Linked DNA regions of Homo sapiens. The protein of the gene in region 5 purifies or fractionates together with the protein of the main gene of each other region. This does not show direct contact. Each region holds a gene or a part of one and is shown on either strand. Other genes may lie near its edges. The genes, in order: ITGA6, FITM2, DIPK2A, POMGNT2, TSPAN18 and CNNM3.

Region 1 (3,500 bases), on a different chromosome or scaffold from region 5:
TCTATAGTGCCTTTAACTATTCAGTCACATTTTAAACTCCAGTTATGACTTTTGCAGAATAATATTGTGTCAGAGAGCCCCAAAACATGTCGGGTGTTCCTAAAGCTTTGGAGACTATAAAATTGAAGTAGATACCATAAACTTCATCCAGGTTTTCAGGCTGTATATTAAAGAAGTTTCGGACTCCAAAAGATTACTCAATGGTCAGCCAAGTTGGTCCGCCGAGTGACTGAGGTCAGGGTCTGAGCACCTTGGACTCTTTAATTTCTCTTAGGTAGTTAAGATTGAGTCATTCCCAGAGGTGGAAGGTATGTGATGATGACTGTGGGTATATCCAGCCTATGAATCATCACTCTTAGCTCTTCTGGGAAGAGATGGATCTATATATGATCACAGGGAAGAACCTAGAAGAAGGAGATCTATAAGAGATAGTCTCATGAAGTCATTTTGGATTTCTGCCAACCCTCATTTTCTTCTTTATGGGGTCTCTCTCTCTGACCACCACTGTCTTCCAGAAATGCTCCAGGCCCGCGGTCTGTTCTGTTCTGACCCTTACTAGGTTTGTTCTTGACTTTTCTCAGACTTGTCATGTTCCATCTCTTAAAATCATATTTTCTGAACTAGAGATCATCTAGTCCAACTGCCTCTTTTTACAGATGAAGAAACTGAAGCTGAAAGTTCAGCTTGAGCAGAATCTTAACAGAATGTGGATTTGAATCTCTGACCCATGCTCATGCCATTTTTAAATGGAAAAGCCAGAAATGTTCTTCAGACCTAGAGAAATCGGCAAGCATCTGAATTTTGGAAGTGTACTATATTGTGTTGATTTATCAAACTGCTTCCCATATGCATAGGTCAGGGCTATCTATTTAAATATTGGTGCCTGGACTCTTACTATTGACTCTATTCCAGCTGGCCTTGGAACAAGTTCTGGGTCCGTCCTTCTTTGCCTGCCTCCACCCCATTCCCTTCTGAAAAAGCCCAGTGAAGTGTGGCTGTAGCTAGCCAAGAATCAGAGCTGTATTCAGGATGTGTACCTAAGCACTTGCTTCCTTGCATTTATTCACTCGGAGTGCCATGTGGCCCAGGGCCATCTTCCAGGGATTGCTGGGTCACCTTGAATGCTAAGAGTAGAGAAAAAGCCAAAACGGGCAGCGAGACTTACAGGAAGTCTTAGGACTCTGCAAGAAAGCAGAAATAGGCAAGTTTAATTTTAACACAGGCTGGTGTGAGACCAAGTAATGACAGGGTTGGGGAAAAAAAGGGTCAAAGTATTTATATGGTATAAATAATTTGTTGGGGAAGTCAGGATAAATGCTTATATAAAAGGATTCCTTTATTATAAAGAAGTGGTTATTCTGTGTTCTCAGTTATATAGACTCTCTTAGCATAACAATATATTGAGATTTAATTTAAGCTTTCATAACCAAATAGTACCAGAATTATGGCGCATGGTTTCCTGAAGACCTCGGCTCAACATATTACTGTGGACAGTGAGGCCAGTGAATTATTTGGTATTTTCAAGAGGGACAGTGAGACAAAACAGAAAATACTGTTGTAAGCTTAGATGACAGGGTCAATTGTGCCTGAAACACTGATTTAGTGCTGAATCAGCCCATTTTAAGAATATAATCATAGCTTAAGAACCAGTTTAAAATTTCCCCATCCTACACTAAAGCAATGTCTTTAACTCCTTTGGATGTCTGTAGCACATTGTGTCTGACAATTCTGATGTTTTGTGCTAAACTGTGATCCACTATCTTTAGGACATGATCTAATCTCTCCCAACTGGATTGTAGGTTATGTGAGGGCAGGGGTCTTACATTCATTTCTTTGCCTGCTAGCACCTAGCATATGCCTTGCAAATACAATAGAGACTGATATTATACACTCAGTTTAACCTGTGACATCAACTCTTCCTGCTGAGGGTGGAGAGAGGGAGAAATCCCTTTCTTTAACCCTTTGCCCTTCCTTGCTCAGGCCTTGGTGTCTTCTGCCTCTGAGGAAACGGAATCTGTAAGCTTAGCAAAGAAACGCACAAGACGTTAATTCTTGGTTTTTGATTTTTCAAAGGCGGGGGGTTCCAGCTAAGGGATTTTCATGAGTGTTTGTAAATTTCACCTGGCTTTTGCCCTAAAGGCAGACTTTAGAACCTAACCCCAGAAATACAGGCTGACCTACACTGCAGTGGGTACTCGGGACTTGCTGAGGTGGTTGGTTGTTATGAGGCTGGACAGAGAAGGATGACTGTGGAATAGAGATCTTTCTGAAAGCAACTTGACAGGGGTGTGGGGGTCAAATGGAAGTGTGCAGTACACGTGTGAAGTCACTTGTGAATTGATAGCGGCAGGTTTATTTCTTCAAGGATAGTAAGGGAATCTTGGATATATTTAACTCTTTCGGTAGGATGGTGGGAAGGCTGCTTACCTGCTCCGGGGGTGAGCCTAGGAGCCATAGCATGGGATCTGGGGATCTGTGTAGCACCCCCGCTGGCTCCTGGGAGGATGGTAAAGATTACGTACTGCAGCAGTGGGAAGTGGACGTAGTCTCAGCCCCCGGTGCCCATCTTCCCTTTCTGGGCTTGGGTACAACTCTGGAATCAAATAACTTTATATCTGGAAGGAAGCTTAGGGGTTCTGAAACCTGGCTGGTCTTCAGGGTAACTACTTGGGCAACCTTTTATAAAAGTGTGATTCTCAGCCCAGCCTAGATCTGTTACGTCAGTTTCCATAAGTGTGCTCCAAGAAGCTGTTCTTAAAGTCTTCTTCGTTTGAGTCAGACTAGCTTTTCTCCTTTACACAGAAGGCAGAGTGTAATGTAGTGACTAAGAGCAGAGCCTAGAGCCAGGTAGGATCAAACCCTTTTCTGCCATTGACTAGCTATGATTTTGTGCAGGATTCCTAACCTTCCTAGGCCTTCCTGCCTTCAGCTGTGAAGCTAGTATCCTCGCACATTAGAATAGTCCTGGTCCAGAGTGAGCATTTTGTGTTTGTTAAATAGATGAGGAAACCAAGGCTGTAAGAGGTGCAGTGGTGGCGGCATGTCTAGCAAACTTGGTCTTCAATCTGCATCTTCCCTGCTTCCCGGCCTGTGCTGTGTATGTGCTTTCTCCTTTTAGGTTTGGTTTTCATCACGTTTAAAGGTTTGGTTTTCATCACATTCTCCCTTTCTTCCATTCCACTCTCCAGTTGAAAAGTGCATCTCAGAAGAGCCATGCCTTCTACTTAGCAGCCCTTCGTAGCTACTAAGCCATAGATAAATCCCAGTGAGGTCTCAGTGTTCAGAGATGAGTGGACAGATGGGTGCATAGACATGACGGGGCAGTGACTGTGAGCTGGATACCCATGGAGGGTGGGTGGTGCAGTTATAGGTTGGGCTTACTGCTAAGGAATACCACCTGTCTGGTTTCCAGGCCTTCTTAGACCTCTATGACCTTGAAAGCACCCCCACACCTCCATCCCTAGGAGGCTGGATAACTTGCACAACACCCAGGGCAGGTT
Region 2 (2,931 bases), on a different chromosome or scaffold from region 5:
CCTCCACTTTTGGTGTGGCACTTCCCTCTGTCTCAGTTTTCTTCTCTGTTAAAGGCAGATATTAACAGTACTTAACTCATAGAGTTGTTTTTTTTCGTTTGTTTTGTTTTGTTTTTGAGATGGAGTCTCGCTCTATCGCCCAGGCTGGAGTGCAGTGGCACAATCTCGGCTCACTGCAAGCTCCGCCTCCCGGGTTCATGCCATTCTCCTGCCTCAGCCTCCCGAGTAGTTGGGACTACAGGCGCCCGCCACCACGCCTGGCTAATTTTTTGTATTTTTGGTAGAGACAGGGTTTCACCATGTTAGCCAGGATGGTCTCGATCTCCTGACCTCGTGATCTGCCCACCTCGGCCTCCCAAACTGCTGGGATTACAGGCGTGAGCCACCGCGCCCGGCCAACTCATAGAGTTGTTAATGGATTACCTGGTTAATACATTTAAAGTACTTACACAGGGGTGGGGTAGGGGAGGAGGGGAGGGCTGGGCACAGTGGCTCATGCCTGTAATCCCAGGACTTTGGGAGGCCAAGGTGGCCGGAGCATTTGAGGCCAGGAGTTCGAGACCAGCCTGGCCAACATGGTAAAACCCCCTCTCTACTAAAAATACAAAAATTAGCCAGGCGGGGTGATGCGCACCTGTAATCCCAGCTACTTGGGAGGCTGAGGCAGGAGGATTGCTTGAACCCGGGAGGCGGAGGTTGCAGTGAGCTGAGATTGCGCCACTGCACTCCAGCCCGAGTGACAGAGCGAGACTCTGTCTCAAAAATAAATAAATAAATAAATAAATAAAGTACTTAGTAAGTGAAGTATATGGTAAGTACCTAAAACATGATAGTTGCTATGAGCTGTAGCTTTGATCAGTTTTCTCATTTTCCCTCCCCTGACAGTGTAGAGACCTGAGTCCTGACATGGTGTCCTCTCCACCGTGTTCCCTCTCTTCACTTCCACTTTCCTCCTCTGTCAGGTATTTTGTCAAAGTGGCCTGGGCCTGGACGTTCTGTCTCCTTCTGCCTTTCATTGCCCTCACCAACTACCATCTGACCGGCAAGGCTGGCTTGGTCCTGCGGCGGCTGAGCACCCTGCTTGTGGGCACGGCCATCTGGTACATCTGCACCTCCATCTTCTCCAACATCGAACACTACACGGGCAGCTGCTACCAGTCCCCAGCCCTGGAGGGGGTCAGAAAGGAACACCAGAGCAAGCAGCAGTGCCACCAGGAAGGGGGCTTTTGGCATGGCTTTGACATCTCAGGTCACTCCTTCCTGCTGACCTTCTGCGCCCTCATGATTGTAGAAGAGATGTCTGTGCTGCATGAGGTGAAGACGGACCGAAGCCACTGCCTCCACACCGCCATCACCACCCTGGTTGTGGCCCTGGGCATTCTGACTTTCATCTGGGTGTTGATGTTTCTGTGCACAGCTGTTTATTTCCACAACTTGTCCCAGAAGGTGTTTGGCACCTTGTTTGGTTTGCTGAGCTGGTACGGGACATACGGGTTTTGGTATCCGAAAGCCTTTTCCCCAGGACTTCCTCCCCAGAGCTGTAGTTTGAATTTGAAGCAAGATAGTTACAAGAAATAAAAGAGTAACAGAGGGGGGACAGAAGGACAATGGCTAATCTATTTTTCAAATATATATTTTGCTTAGTTATTTGGCTAAATTATTGATCCTACTTCAGAGGGAAAGTGTACCAGGCAGTTTTGGTGGGTGGTGCTGAAGTCTGGGGAGTGAGTTTAGTCTTCAGACTATTCTTGGCGACATCACCAGTGTTGCAAGCACCACCATTCCCAGTTAGGCACTTTTTGTCCCTGGTAAGACTTGACCTTTATCTGGAACACTCCTTTTGTCCCTAGAGTGGGGACCTAAGGCTCAGCAAAAGGGCAGAATCAGGAAAGCCTTTATGGTGTGGCTAAAGGAGTGGCCAGAGCCTTGGGACTCCTTTGCTGCCTTCTCCCTGGTTCCAGTTGTCTTTAGATTTTCACGGCTCTTACTGCTGTTACTTAACAGTATTTTCCAGCCAGGCATGGTGGTTCACACCTCTAATCCCTGCACTTTGGGAGGCCGAGGCAGGCGGATCACCTGAGATTGGGAGTTCGAGACCAGCCTGTCCAACATGGCGAACCTCGTCTCTTCTAAAAATACAAAAATTAGCTGGGTGTGGTGGCACATGCCTGTAATCCCAGCTACTCAGGAGGCTGAGGCAGGAGAATTGCTTGGACCTAGGAGGTGGAGGTTGCAGTGAGCTGAGATCGCACCACTGCACTCCAGCCTGGGTGACAGAGCAGACTCCACCTCAAAAAAGAAAAAACAAAACAAAACAGTATTTCCCACTGGTCAGTTTTGCATAGGCATCTATTTCAGGCAGGGTTTTTTTCTTTTTTTTGAGATGGAGTTTTGCTCTTGTTGCCCAGGCTGGGGTGCAATGGCCCGATCTCGGCTCACCGCAACCTCCACCTCCCAGGTTCAAGCGATTCTCCTGCCTCAGCCTCCCGAGTAGCTGGGATTACAGGCATGCGTCACCACACCAGGCTAATTTTGTATTTTTAGTAGAGATGGGGTTTCTCCATGTTGGTCAGGCTGGTCTCAAACTCCTGACCGCAGGTGATCCACCTGCCTCGGCCTCCCAAAGTGCTGGGATTACAGGCATGAGCCACCGCGCCCGGCTCAGGCAGGGTTCTTTATAAAAACAGCCTGATGCCTGAAGGACACTCTCTGGTTGTAATATTTGTTTCATCCATGAAGTGTTTAAATATTGCAACTGACTTGCGATTAGCCACCAAAACAGGCCCTTTTAGATGCAGTGCCTCTCCGACCAAGTATTGGATGATTCATACGTAATGGACTATGATCATTTTCTGTCCATGTTTTCTATTACTATATGCTGGTTTTTTTGGAGCAATAAGATTACTTTTTTTCTGTTCTATTTTGAGCGAA
Region 3 (3,500 bases), on a different chromosome or scaffold from region 5:
GTAACATGACTGAAAATTATTAGTGTAAGGTGAGGTTAGTATAAGGTGATAGGAAGTTGTCTGTGAAATTCTTGAGAGCTCTTTGAATTTATAACCAAAAGAACTGAATTTGTCTGTTCATTTTACAATCTGTTACAAGGCATTTGGATTGAAAGGATGGAAAGATGGCCGTAGGAAACAAGTAGCTTACTATGTAGGAGGTAGGTACACAAATAACTAATTATTATACAATCCATTTAATAAGCCCTGTACAAAAGGTATCTATATCTATCTATCTATCTATATATATATATCTATATCTATATATATATATATATCTATATATATATATATATATCTATATATAGATATATATATATCTATATATATATATATATATACTGTCACATGACTCAGGGAGGGACATCTCATTGTATATTGATAGGAATGGTACCAGGGAAAGTTTCAGAGATTTTGCCAATAGATGGGGGTGGAGAGTGGGAGGAAGGGTGGAGGGGGCAGTATTGATAGAGCATCCATTTCACATTCTGTATTACCACAAAGTTGTTGGATGGTATTGAGCAAGTCACTTAATGTTTCCGATTCTAAGTTTTTTTAATCAGTAAAATGGGGTTGTTAATACTTACCTAACAGGATTGTTTTAAAGATTAAAGAAGAAAGGATTATTCAAGTAATATCTGTTAAATGTTTTCAGTTGTAAAGCTTTTTACAGTGTATTATTTCTTTGAAAATCAGCTTATTCCATTTTTAGACAGCTATAGTAGTTAAAAGTTCTTTAGTACATTATGCTGATGTCTGTCTTAGAAATGTAAAAATCCTACTTTTCTTATTGCAGACATTCAAATGTCACTGTCCTTACATATACGTAAATCATATGTACCTATTCAGGCTATAGTTTTTTAAAAATAGTAGTTTAAAAGGGGATTAGGGATTTGTCTCATATGAAGTGTAATGAATAGAATGAATATGGTAGGAAAGACGGTTTAGATAAGGATTAAGAAGTAAAAGGCAAATAGTTTCTTTTTTTCTCTGTAAATCATTATTATAGTTTAGTAATTCTATTTAGTACATTGGTAAATGGTAGTACAAAAAAACAGGTTAAGTCTAGACCTTAGACTCTGAGACAGAATCTTAAAAGATTTGTAATCTGAAGTAAGTATGATGCTTCAGTGTCTTCGTATTTTTTCTTTCTAATGCTTTTTTGGGGGTTAACTCTGAAATGAAAAGATCTGACAGTAATTATGTGGAATTGGTCAATAGTGCCAGGAACTGATCTGTATATACCCCTGGGACACAGTAAGGGTCAGTTGAGACTAGTAAACTTATGCATATTTAAAACTTGTGAACAAGTGAAGTGTTTTTTGTTTTGTGTTTTTTTTTGGTGGGGGCAGCATTTCTTAAGCAATTTATTCTAAAAGATAATCTATTTCTATTAAATTTAGTTTTTAAAATGTGTTTTGACATCAGTTTCCAATTTTAGATACAGCTGTTGGACATGATATTCAGTAAAATAACACAACCTTACTATTTTCAAGGCATTGTTTAATATTGTTGGAATTTGAGGTGGGTGGAAAATGGCATTCAGAAAATTATTTCATGAAATAAATGGGACATATGCTAGGACTTAAAAATCTTGAAATTGTTAAGCTTCTACAGTATTTGCAATGGATTTTGGCTGCTATTTAGCAGTATAAATTAAGAAGCTAAGATCTTAGAGAAATTTTAGCAAAAATTCAGTAACCATTAAATCATCCCCGTAATTTTACTATATCTCCCCTCCAGACAGTTCACCAAACTGTGAACACATTAGTCTGTCACCAGTACAGTTGACTAATCTTTATGAACAGCTGTTATAACATGCGTTACTACAATGGGATTTCATTCAAATTTGGGCTTTAAAAAATAATTTTAAAACTTAAGTTAGCTCTTTCTTTCTTTTCTTTCTTATGTGTCTGTCTGTCTTTATTTTGATGGAGTCTCTGTCATCCAGGCCGGAGTGCAGTGGCGTGATCTCAGTTCACTGTAACCTCTGCCTCCCGGGTTCAAGCAATTCTCCTGCCTCAGCCTCCCGAGTAGCTGGGATTACAGGTGCTCACCACCACGCCTGGCTAATTTTTGTGTTTTTAGTAGAGACGAGTTTCACCATGTTGGCCAGGCTGGTCTCAAACTCCTGACCTTAGGTGATCTGCCCACTTAGGCCTCCCAAAGTGCTGGGATTATAGGTGTGAAGCCACCGCGCCTGGCCCCTTTAAGCATTTTCTATGCTTTTGATGACATATACTTTCTAAGAGTGTTTTCAAGCTTAAACTTTTTTTTTTTTTGTAGAAATGCCAGTTATGTAGAAAATCGATATTCACATTTTAGATTGTATGTTTTATTAATAGTTTTTTTGAAGTTAGTTTGTTTATACTAAGAACTTTCAAGTTTAACAAAAATCAGTCTTGCATGGTAACACATCTCTTGGTCTGTACTTATTTTCTCTCTTAAGGCAAACTGCAAAGCTATGTTCCTTTTAATGGAATATTATGAGGTAATGAAGTATTATAAAATATTTTATATTGTATAAAAGGAATTTTGATCTTTTAAATTTAGTATACAATATTTTTGGTCATGTAGGAGAAAAAAGAATACAAGCACTTTTAAGTAGACTCTATTTTAATCTATTAGTCTCATGTCATTTATTTTTTGTAAGTAAATAAACAATACCAAAATGTATTCTTTTATGTATCTTTACTCATATATTCCATGTCCACCCTTTTCATGACTGTGTTATGGCATGATAGAATGAAATGGCCTTATTAACCTGGCAGGATGGTGGATATTGATCAAAGGGTTATCGTGATATTTTAAAGGCTTGTTTTTTAGAATAAGGTAAATATACCATAGCATACTGTTTGATTTCAGTATGTAAGATAATCCTGAACATCAAGATTTTGACATGTATTTGTTTTTGCATGGCATACATATAGATGATGCTATAAAGACTGAGTTGAAGATTTCTGTTTGATTCTATAAGTCCCAACATGATCTGGTCCTTGCTTCACTCTCCAGATTCCCTTACCGCAAGTCATTTCCCCATTCATTTCACTGCAGCTGCTTTGGTCTTTTATTCATTTCTGAGAAGATACTTTCAGGCTTTTCATGTGCCTGAACTGCCCCATCTCCAGTCTGCTTAATATTAAACTCATCCTTTAGGTCTCAGCCTGGGTGGAGATCACTTAGGTTAAATAATCAATCTTAACATTATTTTTCCAGCATAATGTTGGCTTCTGGAATGCTCTTATGTAATATATAAACCGTTACCTTTATAAAATCTGAAAAATTCTTAAACAGATGATAAATAAGCAAAAACAAAAACAGAAACAAAAACAAAACAAAAAATAAACCCAAAAAAACCACCCCAAACTAATAAAGTTTAACTTCAACAAAAGGATATTGGCTTGAGGGAGGTTGTGTTAATCTATCTTTTGAATTCATTTTGACTGTTGTAAAGATAATTA
Region 4 (3,500 bases), on a different chromosome or scaffold from region 5:
GACCTTTACCTGTCTGGGTATGCAGTGCCCACTGAACTGCACATGGCTTTGGGCCTGGCCATCACTGCCCATGGCTTGGAGGCCTCATGGTTTGCTGGACATTTGTGAGAACTAGACAGTGATGCTTGCTGCAGACAGATTTGTAGCAGTCATGAGTAATTGGGACATGTAGACACATAACAGAGATGCTCATCTTATCCTCCATCACCACCAAAACACCTCCAAAAACTTGCTCAAAACTCACCCACCCTCCAGCCAGCTTCCCTGGATGATCTCTTGTTGTGCACACTTCCTCGTGTTTCTTTGTGAATGTTTTATGCTTCCTATACTGGGTGTTTTTGGCTCTCTTGATCAGTTCAACCCTCTCAAATTGGGCCTGAGGGTCCATCTGGATTTGTGTACACACTGGGGTCTGAGCATTCCCTGTAAGAATTGTTTTCATTTGATTTTGTAGTTCCACCTAGAAAACCTGGTGTAGGCGTGTTCTCCATTACCTTTGTGAGCCACACAACAGAGGTTCCCACCGTTCTGTTCCCTGTTTCATCCCCGTTTATGACCACACTGGTACACAGTGATGCCAGAGAGGACCAATACAGGCACATGTCACTTCCAGGTGACCCATTTGTGCTAAGCAAAAGCCAGATGACACGGCAGGCTGTGTGGCAAGCAAAGGTTTCTGCGTTATTTGGAGGCTGAAAACCGGTGAGAGGGTTGCATATGAGCTGGTGGAAGGCCGAACGTCCTGCCCCACACTCAAGCCTTGGTTTATCCTCAGCAAAGACTGACATCACCCTTCTCACCAAAGTAGTACAGACTTGAATTCTGTTGGAGTTTTTCCTGCTTTGAAGGGGTTCCTTTTCTATTGATAAGGCAATATAGTCACAGTCATCAGCTATTGATGGTGGATTAATGTCTCCAGCTTTGACTTTGCTTTGCTCTTTATTCTAAAGCAAGAAGATACTACCCATGTCAAAGTTTTAATCTAAGAAAGTGAGCCCTTAACTAAATGTTAAATATGCCTTGATAATTAAATGTGTTAAGTTTTACAAGAACCACTCAGACTGCCAAGATTTTGCCAAAGGATAAATACCTTGGTCAGAAAACCTGATCTATAAATGCCGAATTTATCAATAGCATTAGGTTAATATTTAATTTAGGAGCAAATGTAAGCATTATGTTATTAATACCAGTTCCATATACTACTTCAGATAACCAAAAAAAAAGGAGGGGGAAAGAGATCATTCTGAGGATAAGCTTGAGTTAGTGAAACATGTTTACTCCTTACTAATTTACAACATGTAAGACAACAAATCAATACAGGACTGAAAGCTTCCACAATCTAGCACTAGTACTTCAGGCTGCATTTAGGACAAAAACACTTTTCAGTGACAAAATAAGATTTCTATAATTTTCAATTGGAAGTGTGAACAATCCTTAAAAGTCAAATTGCTGTGAAAGTAAAATATAAAACCTTCTGCACCGTTGCTGACCCCCTCCTGGCCTGGGCCCTGCCTGATCTTCTGCAGCCTGGGTCTGGCAGGTGCTGGCTGTCTGGTCCCTCCACCTCTGTAACCCTTCTTGTGGAGGAGTGACCGGTGAGCTGCTGGTTCTGGCAGTCACAAAACTGGGAACCCGGGCACAGGCCATGGTGAGGCCAGCAGGACAGGGGATTTGCTTTAGACCAGAGCTTGCAAATGAGCATCCGTTTTTAACTGGCAACCATGAGGCCAGCAGCCCCAGGCCTTGGTGCACGTTGTCTTCACTCAATTTGAATAATTGCCAGAAGTTACAAATGAGGACATTTCACATTTTAAATAGATTTTTGCTTCTCTGGGAAAATCAGAAGAGTATTGCTATGGACTGAATCATGTTCCCCCCATTTATATGTTGAAGATCTAACCCCCCTGTGATTGTGTTTAGAGATAGATCATCCTAATAATGAAGCTTAAATGAGGTCATAAGGGTGGGGCCCTAATCTGATAGGACTGGTGTCCTTATAAGAAGAGGAAAAGAGATCAGAGTGTTTCTCTCTCTCCCCACCTCCCTCTCCCGGCTTCCTTTCTCCCTCCCTTTCCCCCTTGCTCACCTGCCCCTCTCCTCCCTCCCCACCACACAGAGAAGAGGCCATCTACAAGCCAGGAAGAGAAGCCTCACCAGAAACCAACCCTGACAGATCTGTGAGAAAATTCTGTCATTTAAGGCACTCAGTCTGGTATTCTGTTATGGGAGCCCAAGCAGACTGATACAGATAGGTACCACCAGGCTGCTTTCCCGCCATTCTCTCATCAGCTGGCATTAGGTGTTCTGTCTCCAGGTCACACAGCCCACCCTCAGCTTTACTTTCTCCATTGGCTCCGGCCCTAGCAGGCATGTGAGTGTGCACCTCCTACTCTGGGCCCAGAATTCCTGGAGCTTTTACTCCTTATCAAACCTTAAAGCCCTTATGGGCTTTTCTGTGCCCGTGTCTGGGGCTGGCCAGGGCCCCCAGAAGTACAGCCTGCACCCAGCACCAATGACCACCCTCACGTGGTGAGCTCCCCAAGGCAAGTGGCCCCACCCCACCTGCCCAGCTGTTACTGGGGTCTGCAGTTGCAACAGCATTTTTGACATTATCCTCTGATGCTCGGAACAGCTGGGATCCTAGAAAGGAGGATTCACTAAGTCTGGGGATCTGATAACATTTAACTGCTCTTGGGAGCTTAGTAAAGTGGTTTGGGGGAGTGAATTGGTAGCTTCCTCCTGTCTGCCTCAGTTTCTAAAGGGATTTTCTAGGCATGTTTTTAATCTCTTGTTGATTTCTTTTTTCTCTTTCTTTTGAAAAAATTTTTGTTTTATCATGCTTTGTCCTGGCTGAGCCACTAAGCCCTTTGTTCCCCACTCCAGTTGGTCTCTAAATTTGGTGCCCAATATAGAGGAGGCAGAGGCAGATAAACATGGTGGTGTTGAAGTACCCTGGTCTGTGTGGCCCTGGAATGCCAAGAAGGTGAGGTCCAAATGGTGCCTGGGCTATTAACATAAGACAGTGCTTAGAATCCATGTTCAGATCCTGCCTCCATTCTGTACATGCTGAGGGACTTGGACACATTTACTTAGCTTCTCCCAGCCTCTGTGTCCCAATCTATAAAATGGAGTAATAGAAATAGTGTTAGCCTCTTAATGTTGGTTTGAAGATTGAATGAGAAAATATACCTACAGTGTTCAGTATACTGCCTGGAACATAAAGTGTTAGAGGCTGGTGATTTTGAGTGTGTTTTTCAAGGTAAGAGTGGGTTCATATTTAATAGTTGTTGGTAATCTGGGAATCAGTTTCAGGTGCCGATTGGATCCTTGGTAGCAGGATGGGATGGGAGGTACAGCACGGGAATCAGCTGCTGGTCCCAGAGCAGTGGAGGGGCCAAAACTCCGCTTAGGGCACGAGTAAGAGGAGTGATAGGAAGAGGCAGCTTTTCCTAGTTTGATTACCTCCGCTTTTCTAAAGGAAAGCAAACAAATAAGGATCA
Region 5 (3,500 bases):
ATCCTTGCCATGGGCCTGCCAGCAAAGTCAGAAATGTATCCTAGGGCCGGACATGGTGGTTCATGCCTGTAATCCCAGCACTTGGGGAGGCCAAGAGGGTGGATCATTTGAGGTCAGGAGTTTGAGACCAGCCTGGACAACATGGTGAAATGCCGGTCTCTACCAAAAAATACAAAAATTAGCTGGGTATGGTGGCATGTGCCTGTAGTCCCAGCTACTTGAGAGGTTGAGGTGGGAGAAACACTTGAACCCTGGAGGTGGAGGTTGCAGTGAGCCAGGATTGTGCCATTGCACTCCAGCCTGAGCGACAGAGCGAGACTCAGTCTCAAAAAAAAAAAAAAAAATGCATCCTGGGCTTTAAGCAAGAGGGCTTTGGAGGAAAAGACAAATAGAGACAGTTCCACAGCAGCAGATTTTTAACGGGACGAAATGCCTAGGAGGGACATGAATGTCTCAGCAAAGAAACCCCAGGAGCCAGTCTCAGACCCTCAGGAACAACAGAGTCACTGGAAAGAATGAATGTGGCTGTGCAGGGACCTCTCTGATGAGCTCTGATTTTGAAGACATGCCCAGGAGAGGAAAGGAGACATCCTAACGGAGGATGAGTCCAGAAATGGGAAGCACATCTGATGCGGGGAATGCGGCCCATGGGAAGCCTCCTGAAAACTTACAAGTAGCATTAAAAGGTTCTAAGTTTGGCTGTTGGCAACGGGCATCTCAAACAACAGCTCCTTCACCAAGTTACAAATTCACTGGTCTTTCACATAAACCCCACGCTATGGTGGCCGCTGTATGCCATGGAACTGTACGTGGCCCAGGCTCCTTCTCTCTGGATGCTCTGCCATCCTAGGGGCCACCTCCCTCTGCCAAGTCCTAGCCAGAGAAAAAAGGAGGGGTGGGCACAGCACTTTCTCTTAAGGATGTGACTCAAGTTGCACAAATCACCTCTGCTCACCTCCCGTTAGCCAGAACTCGGTTACATGGTCTAGCTGCAAGGCAGGCTGGGAAGTGCAGCCTCTAGCTGGTGGTCATGGGGTGTGATAACCATTCCCTTCCCAAGAGAGTAGGGGTGAATGGATCGTGGGGGGCAGCCAGCAGCCTCTGCCAACATATGGAATCTGAGGTCCAGCGAGGGTGTCTTGGCGAAGGCAACACAGCAGTTAACAGCCCACCCCTGCCTGCCATGGAAGCCTGAAACTCCCCTCCCCGCCCTGCAGCTGCTCCCCACGGCAGGTCTCTCTGCCCCACGTCCACAGTGGCCTCAACTCAGGGCCCTCATTTCTCTATTGAGCCTCTTTCCCCCAATGCAGGAAGGCAGGGTGATGAGGGACAGAGAGAACGTGGCCCTCAGGGCCTCAGGAATCCATGGGGATGTGCCAGGGCCAGAGGGGCTGAGTTCCTGGGGCAGAGCTGAGGCTGGAAAGGGCCCGCCAGAGCCCCAGGACCCAGGCCTCTGCTCACTGTCACCTCCTCTGGGACTTTGCAAGTTCTGCCTTGAGCCCCCACCCAAGGCCCATTCTAGCCCCTCATCTGGTTTTATTTCTTCGCAGCAATCATGACCATGTGAAATGATTACTTCTCATTAGTTTGCTGCTTGTTCATCTTGCGCGTCCTCTAATGAGATCGTGAGCCTCGCAGGAACAGGGGCCTTGTCTCCTGTCCCCTGCTGTGTCTCTTGCATCTGGAACTCTCCATGAGACCCTCGTTAAAGTCCTACTCAAGCAAGGGGGCTGGGGCCCAGGCTTAGATCACCCTCGTCCTCTCCCTCCCTCTCCTCCTGCCTAGCCTGGTCACACACCCACACTGGCAGAGTGGGGGCTGGTCAGTGGGAAGAAGGGGATTAAGAGCAAGGGCATTGTGAACTCATAAGGGTGTGTGGGCAGGAGGCACACAAAGCCAGGCGCTTGTCTTCCCTAGAAATGGCACGTGCAGGAAGGGAAAGGGTTTCTTCCAAGGCTGCGAGGAAGTCCTCAGGTTGCAAGAGAACCTGAAGTCTAGGAGCTTCTCTGACCTTGGAGAGTCAGGTCAAGGAGACCTTGCTCCCTTAGGGTGCCCCACATGGCAAATAAGAGCTTCCTCCAAAATACAGTGCATGGCTAAGAAGGGCCCCCCACTGTGCAATTCTGGTTCTGTCCCCCTCCCTCCCTTTGGACCTGCATTATCAGAAACTCAGGAAACATCGGGAAACTCCTACTCACCCCTTAGCCCCAGCCTGAATGCCCACTCCAGCGGCAGACCATCTGCCACTGTCATCCTTCCCCATTTTGGTTGGATCTCAGGGGCTTGGACAGAGAGCCTCCATCAGCCCCTGCTCAGGTGCAGGCATCCCATATCATGGCCAACACTTCCCTGGGATTCCTGGGGTAGCTTCAGACCCTCTGGGGTGATAGCGCCTCCCACCCAGCTCTGGCCACCCAAATCCCGATAGACCCACTCCCCTGTCTGGAGAGCAGGGCCAGTACCTGCTTGTTTAGGAATAGGCTCCTTCCCAGGAGGCACTCCTCCCGGCTCAGCAGGACCCCGTCCCGACTTTGGGGTTCCCTCCGGCAGCAGGCCTCCGGCACCTCTTCACTATCCAGGGTCAGGAGTCGAAACACAGATGCAAACTTAAAGTCTTCAGGCCCGTTGACCCCGCAGCAACCAAACTAGGGGGAGATCCCAGAGAAGGTTCTGGTGGGCAGGAGGAGGACACAGGGGCGGGGACAGAGAAGGACATACAGCCTCTGCAAAGGAGTGGCATCAGAAGACTGGGTGTGGGCGGGCTCCACCTGTCACCACTGTGTGACCATGGGAAAGCCACTCAGCTTCTCTGGGCCTTCAGTGTCCTCATCTCTATAACAGAGGTGGCAGTAACAATTCCTACCTCACCAGGCGCTTAGCCATCCATAAACAGTTGCTGTGGTTATTATCATCATCATAATGACCATTGCTTGGGGACCCAAGACAGGGAGAGCAAACAGGTTTCATCCCGAGTAGGGACTGTGATCAAGTGGCATGGCTGCCTGGAATGCTGCGTGGATGGTGATTCCAAGGCCAGGTCTGTGATCAATGGGAGAGTGCCTGGATTGATTACTGATGCCTGGCGTGGGCATGTGAACACTGGGCATCGTGGCTCTGAATGTTCATAGCATCTCTGGGGCGTCACTCACTGTGATCATGACCGAGTTCCAGGTGGCAGAGAAGACGTCTGTGTCGTTATTGCCCTGGTAGTGCTTGGTGAGCTCCTTGGTGAAGAATTCTCGGGTGAGCTGGGGGCAGAGGGAGAAGATGGGCTTAGGCCTGGCAGTTGGGTGCAGCCCCCACCCTCCATCGTCTCTCCATCCACCTGCTTGGGAGTTGGGGGAATGAGAGCTAGGGGCTCTGCATCCTGGTGCCAGGTCCCCTGGGATTCTCCTAAACCACCAACTTGGGGCAGTCTTCTTATCCCCAGTGGAGAAAGGAAGTCCATACACATGCACATCTCGGTGGAGCCGAGGTCAGGGCACGCTGAGGACCTCACT
Region 6 (3,500 bases), on a different chromosome or scaffold from region 5:
TTCTCCTGGTGTGGTGGCCAACATTGCAACCCTGGAATCAGCGGAGTAGGTTCCATCCTGCCCTTGCCTGCCCCCAGGCCCTGAAGGCTGCTCAGCCTCTTGTGGTGCAAAGTCCTCTGCTGTTAGTGATAAGAGTGGGTAAACAGACCTGCGGGGGGAGACTCATCAAGCACTTTGGCCAGTGCCTGGCGTGCATATGCTGTGTGCTTGGCGTTAGCAGGTGGTTCTTACTCCGGGACAGGCTCTGCTGGTAGGTGAGCTGTTTGCCAATCCAGGAGCAAGGGGTGAATCTGGAATTGCAGATTTCTGTTCTTCTAGGCAGGTCACCAGACTTCCTTTTTTTTAGGGAAAAAGTGGAAGACTGTAGCTGTCCTTTTGGTGTTCAAAGCACTCACGTTTCTAGATTCTTTAAGAAAAAGCTCACTCTGGTGTCTGGCTTCAGCTGGCTGCTGCTTTCAACAGTTGAGCAGTCACCAAGCAGAGATTTGGAGCAGCGGAGATGGAAGGGTTGTCCTGTTCAGAACTAAAGGCAACTTCTGTAGTTGGTCATGATGCTCAGGATGAGGCTGGTGAAAGTGGTCTTTCATTTTCCAAACCGCCAGTGTCAGGATCTTCGCTGCCATGGTCTTGTCTTTCAGATGCGATGGATGAGCTTGGTCCAGGGTGGTTGGGGATTCCACTTGGGGAAGAATAAAAAATGTTCATGTTCGTTGGGAAGGAGCGCAGAGGCAGGATGTCCCCTGGCGGGGGGGCTTGTGTGCTGTGTAAGGAACTTGTACTTGATCACCAGGGCCATGAGCATCAAGCAGCAGCATCAGTTATTTTTACAGATCAGTAACAATTGTGGACACCAGCGCAGGGAGACCAGCGGTGTGAGGGATCCAGGTGAGAGGGGATGATAACCTGAACAAGGTTCATGGCAGGCCTGGAGAGGAGCCCCAAGAGGGCAGCAGAGGTGGAATTGGGAAGATTGGTATCTGGCAGCAGGGCTATGCAACAAGGAGGAGCAGCTGAGGATGAGGCCCAGATTTCTGGCTGTGTGGTGGCGGTGCGCCTTCACTAAGGGCCGGGCGTGGGGAGCAGGTTTTGGCCATTGAATTTGTGTCTGTGCAGTGTCCCAAGAGGCAAACTCCTAGCAGGCCGTTGATGTGAAATGCAAGTGGGAGGCAGAATAGGAGTGTCTCTCAAGTCATGGGAGGGAGGCAGAGAGCCTCAGCCTCCTAGGAGCACAGGTGTGTCAGGGGCAAGGGAAGCCCAGGAGAAGCTGGCCAGGAGGAGGCAAGACCAAGGAAGGAGGAGTTCCCGAGATGCGGAATGTCCTGGAAGCTAAGGGAAGAGACCACTTTCCCAGGGAAGGTGAGTGACAGGAGAGGAGGCCAGCAAACAGGATGCCGTTGACCTTTGCAAGAGCAGATTTGGTGCCACGGCAAGGGAGCCATTTGGGGAATGAATGAGGTGTGGAAAGGTACGAGAACCAATGTAGACAGCCCTCCACAGAGTGTGGCTGCAGAGAGAAGTGACTGGCAGAGGATGTGGGACAGGGGAGGAGGCCTTCTGCTGTTTGGTTTTAAGATGGGCAAGTCCAGTAGGTTCAGATTGAAATGCAGGTTGAAATGTAGCTAGGAAGGAAATTAGAGAGGCCAGGGTCCGGGCTGCTCCTGTTCTGGGCTGGGTGGCCTCCAGGCAGGTCACAAGCAGCCCGATGCAGGAGGATTTGGGGTTGAGTGCCTCTGCTTGAAACAGACCTTTCTAAAAGCTGCCTGACAACATGCTGAAAAGGATCCCCTTGGAAGACAGTGGGGGAGGTTTTTGGAACCTGGAGGTTAAATGGGGAGCTCTTTAATCCCCCTTGACTTCCCCGCTCCTGTGGTGAGTGAGGGCCATTCGTGGGCAGACTGGCCATGTCTTTCTGGTGACATCCCGGAGCTTTTTTCTCTGCTTCTCTAGTTCAGTGCAGTCCTTTGGCAAATATCTTTATTTTTTCCGTGTTAAAGTCCTTTTTGTCCTTCCTAACCTTCTTAAGCATTCCTCCACTTAGGAACAAAGGGCATATTGCAGTCTTTGTGGCGTGTGAGGTTTTAAAAATCGATTCCCTTTCCATCTCTCTGCCAAGCTAATGAGCCTCTGAATTTCGTGGAGCTGGAGTCCCTGCCATCTTGGCAGCTTTCATTCCGGGTCTTGTTTCTTTTGCTGTGTCTGCTAGGGAACTTTGTAGTCTGGGGGCAAGGTAACCTCCCCAGCAAGGCGCCCCTCAATCAGTGCCAACTTGAGATGACGTGCTGATTATTTTGTGCAGACGTCACCAGGAAGAGTGAGTGCTTTGGAGCCATAATAAATAACTTGGACAGCTGCTCCTTGACTTACAAATGGAGTTATGTCCTGATAAACCCATTGTAAGTTGAAAATACCTTAAGTCAAAAATGTGTTTGATACATCTAACCTACCAAACCAAATAGTTCAGCCTGGCCCACCTTAAACATGCTCAGAACACTTACTTTAGCCTGCAGTTGGGCAAAGTCATCTAACACAAAACTATTTTAAAATAAAGTGTTGAATATCTCATGTAATTTATTGACTGCTGTACTGAAAGTGAAAACAGAATGGTTATATGTGTTTGAAGTATGGTTTCTACTGAATGCATATTGCTTTTGAACCATCAAATTTGAAAAATTGTAATTTGAACCATTGTTAAGTAAGGGACCTTAATGTACAAAAGAACATTATTATTATTATTATTATTTTTTTTTTTTTTTTGAGATGGAGTGTTGCTCTCTTGCCAGGCTGGAGTGCAGTGGCACAATCTTGGCTCACTGCAACCTCTGCCTCCCGGGTTCAAGTGATTCTTCTGCCTCAGCCTCCTGAGTAGCTGGGACTACAGGCGTGCACCACCACGCCCAGCTAACTTTTTTATGTTTTTAGGAGAGATGGAGTTTCACAATGTTGGCCAGGATAGTTTCGATCTCTTGACCTTATGATCCGCCCGTCTCGGCCTCCCAAAGTGCTGGGATTACAGGTGTGAGCCACTGCGCCTGGCCAAGAACATTATTATTATTATTTTTGAGACAGAGTCTTGCTCTGTCACCTGGGTTGGAGTGCAGTGATGTGATCGTGGCTCACTGTAGCCTCTACCTCCTGGGCTCAAGTGATCCTTCCACTTCAGCCTCCTGAGTAAGCTGGGGCCACAGGTGAACACCACCATCCCCAGCTAATTTTTAATTTTATGTAGAGATTGGGGTCTCCCTATGTTGCCCAGGCTGGTCTCAAACTCCTGGCCTCAAGCGATCCTCCCAGCTCAGCTTCCCAAAGAGATGGGATTACAGGTGTTTCCCACTGTGCCTGGCCGCAGTCTCTGCTTTAAAGGAACCCAGCTCTGGTTTCCTGTCTGCTGGGAGCCAGATGATTGCCATGATGCGGAAAAGAGTCTGACCAGCTCCAACAGCAGTGAGGAGCGTCAGCACACTACTTTTGTCTTTCTCACAGTATTCATTCATTCACTGAGG

What was found.
Region 1: the proteins of TSPAN18 (region 5) and ITGA6 purify together in Homo sapiens (affinity purification with mass spectrometry; one large-scale study listed by BioGRID and IntAct). This does not show direct contact.
Region 2: the proteins of TSPAN18 (region 5) and FITM2 purify together in Homo sapiens (affinity purification with mass spectrometry; 2 studies listed by BioGRID and IntAct, with this or other methods). This does not show direct contact.
Region 3: the proteins of TSPAN18 (region 5) and DIPK2A purify together in Homo sapiens (affinity purification with mass spectrometry; one large-scale study listed by BioGRID and IntAct). This does not show direct contact.
Region 4: the proteins of TSPAN18 (region 5) and POMGNT2 purify together in Homo sapiens (affinity purification with mass spectrometry; one large-scale study listed by BioGRID and IntAct). This does not show direct contact.
Region 6: the proteins of TSPAN18 (region 5) and CNNM3 purify together in Homo sapiens (affinity purification with mass spectrometry; one large-scale study listed by BioGRID and IntAct). This does not show direct contact.

Annotation. Positions count from the first base shown.
Region 1 is NC_000002.12:172,430,586-172,434,085, forward strand, and holds part of ITGA6 (integrin alpha-6 isoform b preproprotein), read left to right. Parts: intron 1-3,500. UniProt on the Homo sapiens protein: Integrin alpha-6/beta-1 (ITGA6:ITGB1) is a receptor for laminin on platelets. Integrin alpha-6/beta-1 (ITGA6:ITGB1) is present in oocytes and is involved in sperm-egg fusion.
Region 2 is NC_000020.11:44,305,272-44,308,202, reverse strand, and holds part of FITM2 (acyl-coenzyme A diphosphatase FITM2), read left to right. Parts: intron 1-962; coding exon 963-1,578; 3' UTR 1,579-2,931. UniProt on the Homo sapiens protein: Fatty acyl-coenzyme A (CoA) diphosphatase that hydrolyzes fatty acyl-CoA to yield acyl-4'-phosphopantetheine and adenosine 3',5'-bisphosphate.
Region 3 is NC_000003.12:143,978,323-143,981,822, forward strand, and holds part of DIPK2A (divergent protein kinase domain 2A isoform a precursor), read left to right. Parts: intron 1-3,500. UniProt on the Homo sapiens protein: May play a role in cardiomyocyte proliferation through paracrine signaling and activation of the PPI3K-AKT-CDK7 signaling cascade.
Region 4 is NC_000003.12:43,096,080-43,099,579, reverse strand, and holds part of POMGNT2 (protein O-linked-mannose beta-1,4-N-acetylglucosaminyltransferase 2), read left to right. Parts: intron 1-3,500. UniProt on the Homo sapiens protein: O-linked mannose beta-1,4-N-acetylglucosaminyltransferase that transfers UDP-N-acetyl-D-glucosamine to the 4-position of the mannose to generate N-acetyl-D-glucosamine-beta-1,4-O-D-mannosylprotein.
Region 5 is NC_000011.10:44,918,962-44,922,461, reverse strand, and holds part of TSPAN18 (tetraspanin-18), read right to left. Parts: intron 3,249-3,500; coding exon 3,150-3,248; intron 2,646-3,149; coding exon 2,463-2,645; intron 1-2,462. UniProt on the Homo sapiens protein: Plays a role in the cell surface localization of ORAI1 and may participate in the regulation of Ca(2+) signaling and the VWF release in response to inflammatory stimuli.
Region 6 is NC_000002.12:96,819,268-96,822,767, forward strand, and holds part of CNNM3 (metal transporter CNNM3 isoform 1 precursor), read left to right. Parts: intron 1-3,500. UniProt on the Homo sapiens protein: Probable metal transporter.